Linked DNA regions of Homo sapiens: region 2 is reported to be linked to region 1. The links are microRNA targets in miRTarBase. Many come from high-throughput screens and were not tested one by one. Region 1 holds a microRNA gene; the other region holds the end of a gene's coding sequence.

Region 1 (5,071 bases):
CCTCCCCATTTGCCGCTCTGGCCGCCCCTCCCGGGGCTCTCTGCTGAGTCACTGCAGAGATTCAGCTGCTGGAACCCCGGGGATGAATGCGATGAGAAGCACTGGGGGAAAGGAGTAATGAAATCTGCACATGAAAATGTATACATTGAAGTACAGGACAGATAGGGCTGGGCAAATGATCGTCAAAACCTAATGGTTTTTGTCATCTGACCTTTCAAGGAGATACTGGGATACAGCCTGCTATTGTTGGGTGAAAACTGTGATATAACCATCATGTTCTGGCACTTTTTTGAACCATTTCTAGTATTACCTTGAGAAGTAGGACCAAATGGTTCTATCCGTCTTATGGACAGGTACTTTGGAGAAAAAAAGAAATGACTGCCCTAATAATGCCTAAAAAATAGCCTGGGGAGCTGACATTGTTTAAGAAACATGGTTATTTTACCACTGTAAAACCACAGGCTTGTTTTTAGATTTTAGCAAAAAGTATCAGGGATATGGGGGGGAAAAGTATCTTGTAAGTTGAGGAAGTTAGCGAACGGGTAGGTAGATTACAGGCAATAGGGAAGAATGTGTGTACAGACGGAAAGCCATTTCCCCCAGGGCTTTAGCAATTAATTTATTTCAGCTCTATGACAACTCTAATTTTAGTTTTGGAGGGTATTATTTCCATTCTGGCTGTTTTGAGAGAACTTCCATTCTACTGACAATTCTTGATCTGTTGACCATCAGAAGTCATAGACTTGAAACAGAACGGTTTATAATTCCTGTTTGGCACTCCTTGTCAATGTGGATAAACTGACTTGTGCCTTTGAAGTCCTGGGCATGGGAGGGTTGGGTGTACCAACCAGTGCTCTTTTTCCAAAGACAAAATCAATTCTCACACGCTGGGTATGAGTTATGCCTTATCTGGGGGTGGGGGAGCATCTTAGGAAATTAAATGGAAACTTAAAGAGTCTGCTAAGAAAAGCAGAAATGTAATCTACCGCCTTGACCTCTCAAGAGATTAGATATTCAGGGTCATGACAAAGCTGCTTATGTTGGAATACACAGTGCAGCTATCTTACTTTCACAGACTGTTTACCCTGAGCAGTTTCTCAGCCCAAATCCAGAAAGGAGTACTAAATGGGGCTTCATTTAGGCAGGAGGGCTGAAAATCAGGAGTAGCTCTCTGCTTGAGGACATGTGATAAGTTACTACACACACACACTCTTTAAAACATGAGATATAGCACATATATATTTTTTGAACATTTTACTGGTTGGGGGTAGTGGGTAGATGGTAGAGCTTTTGGAGTAAATAAGAAAGAAGTTATTTTTTTCCTGGGAAGCCTTGATAAAAGTCAACGAAAGAGTGTCCAGCATTTAAGTCATGTCCCTTTTATTTATATAAAGTCCTCTTCAGCAGGTATTGGGAAGACCACAAGGGTAGGGGCTAAGGGGTTAAAGTCGGGGAGCAGAGGCAGAAGATTATATGTTGAAATAATGTATTTTTTTTCCTTAAGATTAGAATGATGAACAAATATGGTGAGTGCTATGGCAGACAGAGGTTTGATTATAGTCTCGGTCAGCTTTGTGCCTATGTGAAGGGCAATGTAATCATTGCATGGTAACAGCAATCTCCCACCCCATCTTACCAGGTTTTGGTTTGTAGATGAGTGGACAATGTTACCTGACTGCTTACAGTGGGTCTCTGCTTTTCCTACAGGATGAGGGAGTGGTGGGTCCAGGTGGGGCTGCTGGCCGTGCCCCTGCTTGCTGCGTACCTGCACATCCCACCCCCTCAGCTCTCCCCTGCCCTTCACTCATGGAAGTCTTCAGGCAAGTTTTTCACTTACAAGGGACTGCGTATCTTCTACCAAGGTAAGAAGTGGACTATTGGAAGTCCTGCGTGTATCGGTCACATAAGTCCCAGCTGAGGTATTTATTTTGTGGCTATTGGTCTCTTGTTGCTCCTTAATGATGGAGGAGAGTATCTCTCTCTCTTTCTGTGTAGTGTGCTTGCAGAGAAGCGCAGAAAACTGCTGGGAGAATGGGGGTAGGGACTGAGATTCCAACCTGCAGACCTTACCTTTTAGTATAAGTTTTCTTTGTAGCTTGATATGTATTCCAATATTAGTTTTTTTTTTTTTTTGAGCAACCTGTCAGGTAATATATAAAATATTAATAGATATAACCACCATTGGTTCTCTCTCCTTACCATCCCTGATTTCATTTTTTCTGTAGATTATTTGTAGTGTAACTGTGATTTAAGTCTTGATACCATTATATAAATTAATTTGCTAGTGATGATGATTATTATGACCACTACTTATCAAGTAATTACCATATGCCAGGCACTGAGTTATGTTTTCAGCCTTCATTGTTTAATCTTTACAACAGCATTTGGAGATAGGTGCCATTAACCTCATTTTATAGGTGAAGAAACTGAGAAACAGATTGGAAATGATTTGTTTTGAGCGGGGGTCAAGAGCAATAACGAAAAATGTTTGTCATAAACCGTTTTTCATTATTGCTCCTGACCTCCTCTCATTTGCTATATTCAATTAAGTAAGTATACAATTTTTATTATGTTGGCTTGGGTTACTTCCAGTTTTACTGTTTTAGAAAACTAATGTTGAAGTAAAAGCTTCATGTCCATACAGTTTATTTTTTCCTTACATTTTCAAACTATACTACTTGTATAAATGGAATGATTTTATTTGCACAGATTCTCAAGAACAAAACTCTTAGGCTAAAGTATATACAATTTTTAACTGCTTCTAAATTATTTTTGAAAACCTTATTACCAAATTTTCATGTCACTGGCAGTATATGAATATACCTGTTCTAATCCCATACTATTAGCAAGGTTAATATTGTCTAAATGTTTACCTAATTTAGATGATGCTGAATGCTTCCATATTGTCATATGCATTAAAAAAGTTCATGTTTATGTTGATTAAGCCCTTTTTATAGTTGACAGGATTTTGTAATAGTTTTATTATGTTTTTGATGTTAGATTGGGTCTCCTGCTGAATAAAAAGTGCTGAGCAAACAGCATAAGCTAAAGGTGTTCCTTGGGAATAGTTGCTGTATCTTAGAGAATTTCTGTGAGGCCATTCATGATAAAGTACAAAGAATTTGTAGTTTATGTGTTGTGATCATATGCTTTTAACTGAAAATTTACTTTTCACTGAAAAAATTTGCATATTACAGAACAAAAGGAGAAATGGGGAGATGCTGTTTAAAAACACCTAGGTGAAAGTAAACAAGGTGCCTTCAAGTATTTTCACATAGCATGATTTTTACAATGTTTTAATATACAGATTGAAAGGAGAAAAGGCCTGTTCTCACCTAACGCAGTTAAGCTTACATTTTACAAATAATTGTGTCATTTTAATGTCAATTTGGTCACAGTTGCTTGTTCTTTGTATCAGATTACTTAGATTTTAACATCTTCGAGGTTATTTTTATAGGGATTTGGCATAATTGATTGTACTTTCCTTCTTCCTAGACTCTGTGGGTGTGGTTGGAAGTCCAGAGATAGTTGTGCTTTTACACGGTTTTCCAACATCCAGCTACGACTGGTACAAGGTAATGAAGTCAGACTTCTACGTCCTACTATGTCTTAAAAAATCTCGGCCGGGCGCGGGGGCTCAAATCCTAGCACTTTGGGAGGCTGAGGTGGGAGGATGACCTGAGGTCAGGAGTTTGAGACCAGCCAGGCCAACATGGCAAAACCCCATCTCTACTAAAAGTATAAAAATTGGCCAGGCATGGTGGCACAAGCCTGTAATCCCAGCTACTTGGGAGGCTGAGGCAGGAGAATCGCTTGAACCCGGGAGGCAGAGGTTGCAGTGAGCTGAGATTGCACCACTGCACTTCAGCCTAGGTGACAGAGCGAGAGTCTGTCTCAAAAAAAAATTTTTTTTTAATAAAAATTTAAAAAACCTCAAGGATTTTGTTGTCAGCACCAGAAGGCTCTTGCACATTTGAATTGCTTTTAAAAAAACATTAAATGTTGAACTGTTCCTTATTTACTGAAGGGAATAAACAACTCCTTGGCACTCTGGAAGGGATCACTGCCAAGTTACCCTCCCTCAACAGGGATTAATTACCAGGAATAAAGCATTTTCCAAGAGGATCATCTGTGGGACCTGTGGTAGTTTCATGGCGTTTTCTCTTTATGGAAGTCTGTTAAGCCAAGATAGGGCTGAAGCTCCTGTGCAACTGTAGGTCTGGTGAAAGGGAGGGGCAGGAGCAGAAAGCCCAAATCATCGTTTCTTTCTTGTAGATTTGGGAAGGTCTGACCTTGAGGTTTCATCGGGTGATTGCCCTTGATTTCTTAGGCTTTGGCTTCAGTGACAAACCGGTAAGCAGCACCTATGTGGGGCTGGTGATGGGGTGTGGGGGCAGACGCAGACTATGAGGGTCAGGCTGGCAGAGAGAGCTGTCCTCATGACTTCATCCTGTGTATGTGGGCTTTCCTTTCCTCAGAGACCACATCACTATTCCATATTTGAGCAGGCCAGCATCGTGGAAGCGCTTTTGCGGCATCTGGGGCTCCAGAACCGCAGGATCAACCTTCTTTCTCATGACTATGGAGATATTGTTGCTCAGGAGCTTCTCTACAGGTCAGTGGAGCTTCAGACTTCAGCTTATGATGCTAGGAAAGTACATTGTTTCTGGACTGTTTGTATCCTTTTTCTCTCGTTTTCAGCGGTGCACTGGTTTAAGTTTGCTCAGCTACATGTGTGTTTCCTCGTCTCCCTTCTAGGTACAAGCAGAATCGATCTGGTCGGCTTACCATAAAGAGTCTCTGTCTGTCAAATGGAGGTAATTGCCTTGGCGGTAGGTAGAAAGTGGGTGTAATCTAGAAGGGCCATCTTTAGATACAGCGGCACCTAAATGGTAATCTGATAATATTTCAAGTAGACATAATTAAACTATGGGATCTCTACCTCTTCTGTGCCATCAACTCCTTTGGTGGTCTGACAAGATTTATGGACCCTTTCTCAGAATGTTTTAAAATAAAGAAACAAACAGCATTACAAAGGATAGTGACTTTACTTACATAGTCAATAAAAAGC
Region 2 (5,071 bases), not on the chromosome of region 1:
TCAGAATTCCCCAGGGCACACAGCATGTTTGAAAGGACGAACTCCTGTCCCATCACTGGCAGTTTGGCTCTTTAGCAGGCCTGGGTTTCCAGCACATTCCTGCTCCTCAGGGCCTGTCTTAGCCATTCAAGACCCAGGGTCACCTAAGTGGTAGAAGCCATTCTAGGGAAGGAGGAGGAAGGAAGAAGGGGGTATCCAGGAAACAAAGGAGGCTGCTGGGGGCTCGGGGAGGCAGGGAATCCCTCCTGCTGCTGGGAAAGGGGGATGGGAACAGAAACAGCATCCCACGTGCCAGGCGCCTGGAGCAGCCAGGAGGGCTGTCGGCAGGGCAGATGGAGAAGCAGCCTGCGCGGCCCTCCCAGCTCCCCGGGGGCCTGTGGGCAGCAGGGGGAGCCAAAGCCCTTCCTTCCAAGAGCTCTTTACATAAGTGCTTGGAAAGGCCGGGCCTTATTAGAGTGTCTCAGTCTCTGTGACCCTGACCGCAGGCAGGCAGCTGGGCCAGCGTGCACAGGAAGCTGGACAGAGCGTTCCCAGAAAGGCCACGGGACTGACGCCTGTGGGTTTCCATCGTGTTTCTGGAGGAAAAAGGAGGCTTAAAAAAAAAAAAGTACTGAGTTAGAAAAAACAAGAAAGTATTTCCAGACAGTAGCAGCTCTGCTAATGGCCTAGAAAACAATCTGGGACTAGGGCATGGGGAGGGGAATGTGCTGAGACTGTGCCCTGGGTGGGTGGGAGTCCATCAAACCCCTCCTTTTGGAGCTGGGCTGAGGGGGTCGGAACTTTCTCTTGAGGGAAATGTAGGCCCATGCCTGCCCTGCCACGAGGGATCTGGGCTGTGGGAGGGACGCCCTGGCTGAGGAGGCCACGGGGGCCTACTTTGCAGCCCCTCATTGACCCACTGTCTTTCCTTCCTCAGATCCTGATCTCCGGGAGGGACAGATGGCCAATCTCTCCCCTTCCAAAGCAGGCCCTGCTCCCCGGGCAGCCTCCCGCCGAGGGGCCCAGCCCCCAACCCACAGGCACGGAGGGGCATCCCTCCCTGCCGGCCTCAGGGAGCGAACGTGGATGAAAACCACAGGGATTCCGGACGCCAGACCCCATTTTATACTTCACTTTTCTCTACAGTGTTGTTTTGTTGTTGTTGGTTTTTATTTTTTATACTTTGGCCATACCACAGAGCTAGATTGCCCAGGTCTGGGCTGAATAAAACAAGGTTTTTCTACTCTGTGGCTCTGCATGCGGCCTGCTGGCTGGCTGGCCAGCCACAGCTAGTTTGGGCCTGGGGGATGTCCTTAGGCATCATCCTTCCCCTCGCCAAATGTGGAAAGGGCAGCCACCACCCGGTCAGGACCACAGTGACCATGAGGGCGCTGAGCCCATCGTGGAAGCCTGTGGGGTTGAGCCCTTGGCCAAGCCTGTCGCATGGGAATGGGACCACATCCGACTAGGGGAGGGCCCTGCAGCGGGGTGGGCGGCACCAGCCTGCTCTCCCTGCTCAGCCCCTGCTCCTATCTGGGCTCGTGTGCCCACTGCTGCCCCTTCTCAGCCTTCAGCCTCACACTCCCACCGGTCCCCCTCCTGGCCCTCTCACTCTCACACCGTTCACTCTCCACCAGCCACCCACTCCCTTACAATTGCAGGCTCCCGAACTCAAGTCTCCTGAAGGCCAGGTGCTGTGCTAGGGCACACGCAGGAGCATCGTAGCTTCTGCCCTCAGGGAGCGCATAACCACAGGGAACGGGGAGCACGCGTTGCCCAGTGAGGCAGCACCTAGGGGTTCTGGGGAGCCTTCACATGGGAGAGAGCCTCCTTCCAGGCAGGGAGGGGAGAAGAGGATTCTTGGCAGAGAGACAGCATTGAGCAGAGATCATGAGGTGGGGCTGCAGGCCGACAGGGTGTGAGTGGGAGATGGAGGGAGGCCCCGCAGCCCTGCAGCCCCCGTCCCCTGCCCTGGCTGTGGCATCCCAGAGGTCCTGGACACTGGAATGGACCAGGAAGAAGTGAGAGGGTGGTGCCTCTCCTCCTCGAGGCCCTGAACAACGAGCCCTCGGGATGCCTCCAGACCCACCTGCTTCCCTGTGGGGGCAACACCAGTGAGAAAGGGAAAGAGACTTTGTCCAAGTACCAGGGCTCTGGGTTCCAGGGCCAATCCTGCTCACTGCTGTGTGACTGTGGGCAAGTCAGACTTCATCTCCGGGCCTCAGTTTCCTCATGAGTAAGATGGGAATGCCCTCCTGCCTGGCTCCCACACTGACATGGAGAGTTGATGAGCTACTGCTGCAGGGGAGGTGCCGGGGGAGCTACAGGGTGTCAGCACCCACCCCTCCAGATCTTGGTGAGCCCCAGCCCATTTGCAGAGGTCCTCCAAGAAGGTGTCCCCTGCTTTTGGCTCTGATGCGATCCTTGCCTCAGGGTCCCTGGTAGCAAGGAGGTTTTCTGGTGCAGTAGAGAGGGAGGGCTTCTTGGAGCCATGCTATGCATCCAGGAGGGTTCTGGCCCAGTCCCCTGGAGCCCTTGGGCCACTCACCAGCCCAGGCAGCAGGGTGGAGTGGGTGTGGCTGCAGCCCTCCCTCGGCCCTTCCTCTGCAGGTCTGGCTGGGATTTAACTCTGCTGACAGGGTAGGTGCCGCAGCTCTGCCACTCTCCCTCTGGAGCTGGACCAGGACGGGTGAGAGGAGTACAGGCACATGCCTGTCATCCAGGGCTGCCATTCTGCTGCATCCCCTGCCGGTGTGTGCTTCCCAAGATGCTGTCCTTATTGCAGCCCCACCCCCTCTCCTTCCTAGATACTCCCAGGAGTGAGCTTGGGAGGGGGTCAGACAAGGTCAACCAATTCCAGACTGTCAGGAGGCCCGTATGAGGTAGAGACAAAAGCCCCCATTTCTCAGGTCAGAAAACTGAAGCCTGTCTGAGACCACAGGCAAGTTCAAGGCAGACACAGTGCTGGAGCTCACGTCTCTAAGCCCTAGGCCAGGGCCAAATGCCGGGTGTGTGCAGTTTTCTGGGGAGATCTGTACCCTCAGCAGATGAGCTATGGCCCTGAACACAGAATTGGATGGAAGGAGAGAGTAAGGGTGGCTTTTCCAAAAAGCCCACACATCACAAAGTGTGGGGAGGTGGGGAGCACACAAGGAGACTCCCAGACACAGTGCTCCCGCGTGCCCATGAACCTTTGGCCTGAAGTTCAGATTCTAGGGGGGCTGGTGGATGTCCCCAAGCCTGCCATCAGAGTGAGGACACCTGGGCCAGTCCTCACATGCTGGGAGGACTCTGAGATTAGATCTCTGGGGAGGGGCTTCAGATACCCCTTTGCCCCCCAAAAAGCAGAGGAGGCTTTCACCCAAAGGAGAAGAGAGATAGAGAGAGAAGAGAGAAGACAGCCGTGACGCGCAGGGACCAGGGCAGCCCTCACCGCTTCCTGGCTGACCTGTCAGGGCCCTATCAGTGCAGCTTCACGGCACTGCCCAGCAGTGACGGCCCCTCGGGAAAGGAGATGCAGCTGCTCCCACCTCAGGGGGCAGGGTTTCCTCAGGTATTTTGACTCCATGTAGAATGGCAGAGTCTCCCTGAGAATGGGGAGAGAAAAACTGTCAAGACGGCAGGGGCCCAGCAGGCGCTGAGCTGAGGAGGGCGGCTGGGAGAGGAGTGCTCTCCCAGCTCGGCCTCAGCCTCTTGAGGTCTGTCTGGCTGTCACTGCATGGAGGAACAGCCTGCTTGTTCCTTGTTCTTGCTGTCACCTGGCTCGGGCCCCTCCCTAGATAGAGCTCACCTGTTGGGCTCACCCCACCAAGCCAGGCCCAGGGAGGGGTGTGTGAGGCCCACTGGAGGCCAGGTCACGTGACGCAGGGACTCAGGCCCACTGGTCCCTTCACCCTTCCGTTTGCCCCTTCAAGGCCAGCTGAAACCCCGATTTCTCGAAGCCTTCCTTAACCATCCCCTCTCCCCTTCAACTGGGGTGCACTGTGTGGCCTCATTCAGGACTCTCCCACCCCCACCCTGCCACGGACACACAGGGGCATGGGAGGAGGCACCCGAGCCTTGCATGCTGGACAAAGGTTACATAGGTGCCATCTCAGCCAGGTGCAGTGGCTCACGCCTGTAATTCCAGCGCTGTGGGAGGTCGAGGCGGGCAGATCACTTGGGGTCAGGAGTTCGAGACCAACTGGCCAACACGGCAAAACCCCATCTCTGCTAAAAATACAAAAATTAGCCAGGCATGGTGGCACGCGCCTGTAATCCCAGCTATTCGGGAGGCTGAGGCAGGAGAATCGCTTGAACCCAGGAGGCGAAGGTTGCAGTGAGCCAAGATTGTGCCACTGCACTCCAGCCTGGGCGATAGAGTAAGACTCTACCTCAAAAAAAAAAAAAAAAGAAAAGCAAAACAACAACAACAAAAAAACCATAGGTGCCATCTTCACTCCTGACCCAGCACCTCCTTCTGGGCTGCACAGACCAAGAGGGTCTCTGCTGGTACACTGGGCACTGGTGTGCAGGAATCCACCTGGGCTGTAAGGGCCTCAAGTCACCTGCCCAGCATCCCTCCCTGTCCTCTTCTTGCTCAGCCCCAGGGCTGGGGAGCTCACTGCTTCTCGAGACATTTGCTGTTAGAAACACCTTGAGGTGAAACAGACCCCCACCCCCTGCCCCGCAGCCTTCCCTTGGGCTGGTCCTCGGGGTCTACTAAGTAAATGACTCTGGTGGATGTGACTGGACAGCAGGAAGGACAGAGACAGCAGAGGCGACACCTGGCAGGGGGCACAGCTGTGGCCCTGACTCTGTCCTTCAGTGGGCCTCAGTCTCCCTATCTGTCCTGAGGGGGCTGAGTGTCTTGCTAGTCCTTACCTGGCAGAGAAGAAGGGGCAGGGGAAGAGAAGAGAGGGAGGGGAGGAAATGGGAGGTAGAAGGAGGCTGGGTAGGGAGTGATAGGCAAAGTCCAGCCTGGGGGAAGGTGGGCAAGCAGCAGGGGGACTGCCTCAGAAGGGGAGCAGGGAGCCAGCAGAGGCACTGCTAGGGCTGCAGCCTGGTGAGGGCTGGGGCGTTATCTGGCTTGGAGGATGCCACAGAGAGAGGC

Evidence for each region. The annotated mature microRNA hsa-miR-335-5p reads UCAAGAGCAAUAACGAAAAAUGU and lies in region 1 at 2,466-2,488, shown strand. An mRNA with a match to its seed (bases 2 to 7 or 8) in the 3' UTR can be bound and repressed. Matches are read on the target gene's strand: a 7mer-m8 pairs with bases 2 to 8, a 7mer-A1 pairs with bases 2 to 7 and ends in A, and an 8mer does both.
Region 2: miRTarBase lists LOXL1 as a target of hsa-miR-335-5p. The part of its 3' UTR that is shown has no 7-base or 8-base seed match.

The regions. Positions count from the first base shown.
Region 1 is chr7:130,493,661-130,498,731 of GRCh38, forward strand. It overlaps MIR335 (microRNA 335), which reads left to right and starts at 2,451; the gene lies at 2,451-2,544. MEST (mesoderm specific transcript) reads left to right here. Exons shown (of 12, transcript NM_002402.4): 2 at 1,708-1,862; 3 at 3,496-3,575; 4 at 4,276-4,353; 5 at 4,479-4,615; 6 at 4,759-4,817.
Region 2 is chr15:73,950,915-73,955,985 of GRCh38, forward strand. LOXL1 (lysyl oxidase like 1) reads left to right here. Exons shown (of 7, transcript NM_005576.4): 7 at 917-1,222. The coding sequence ends at 923. Among named protein-coding and RNA genes, the nearest start is that of LOXL1-AS1, 25 kb to the left of the region's middle. RefSeq lists an enhancer at 1,617-2,300.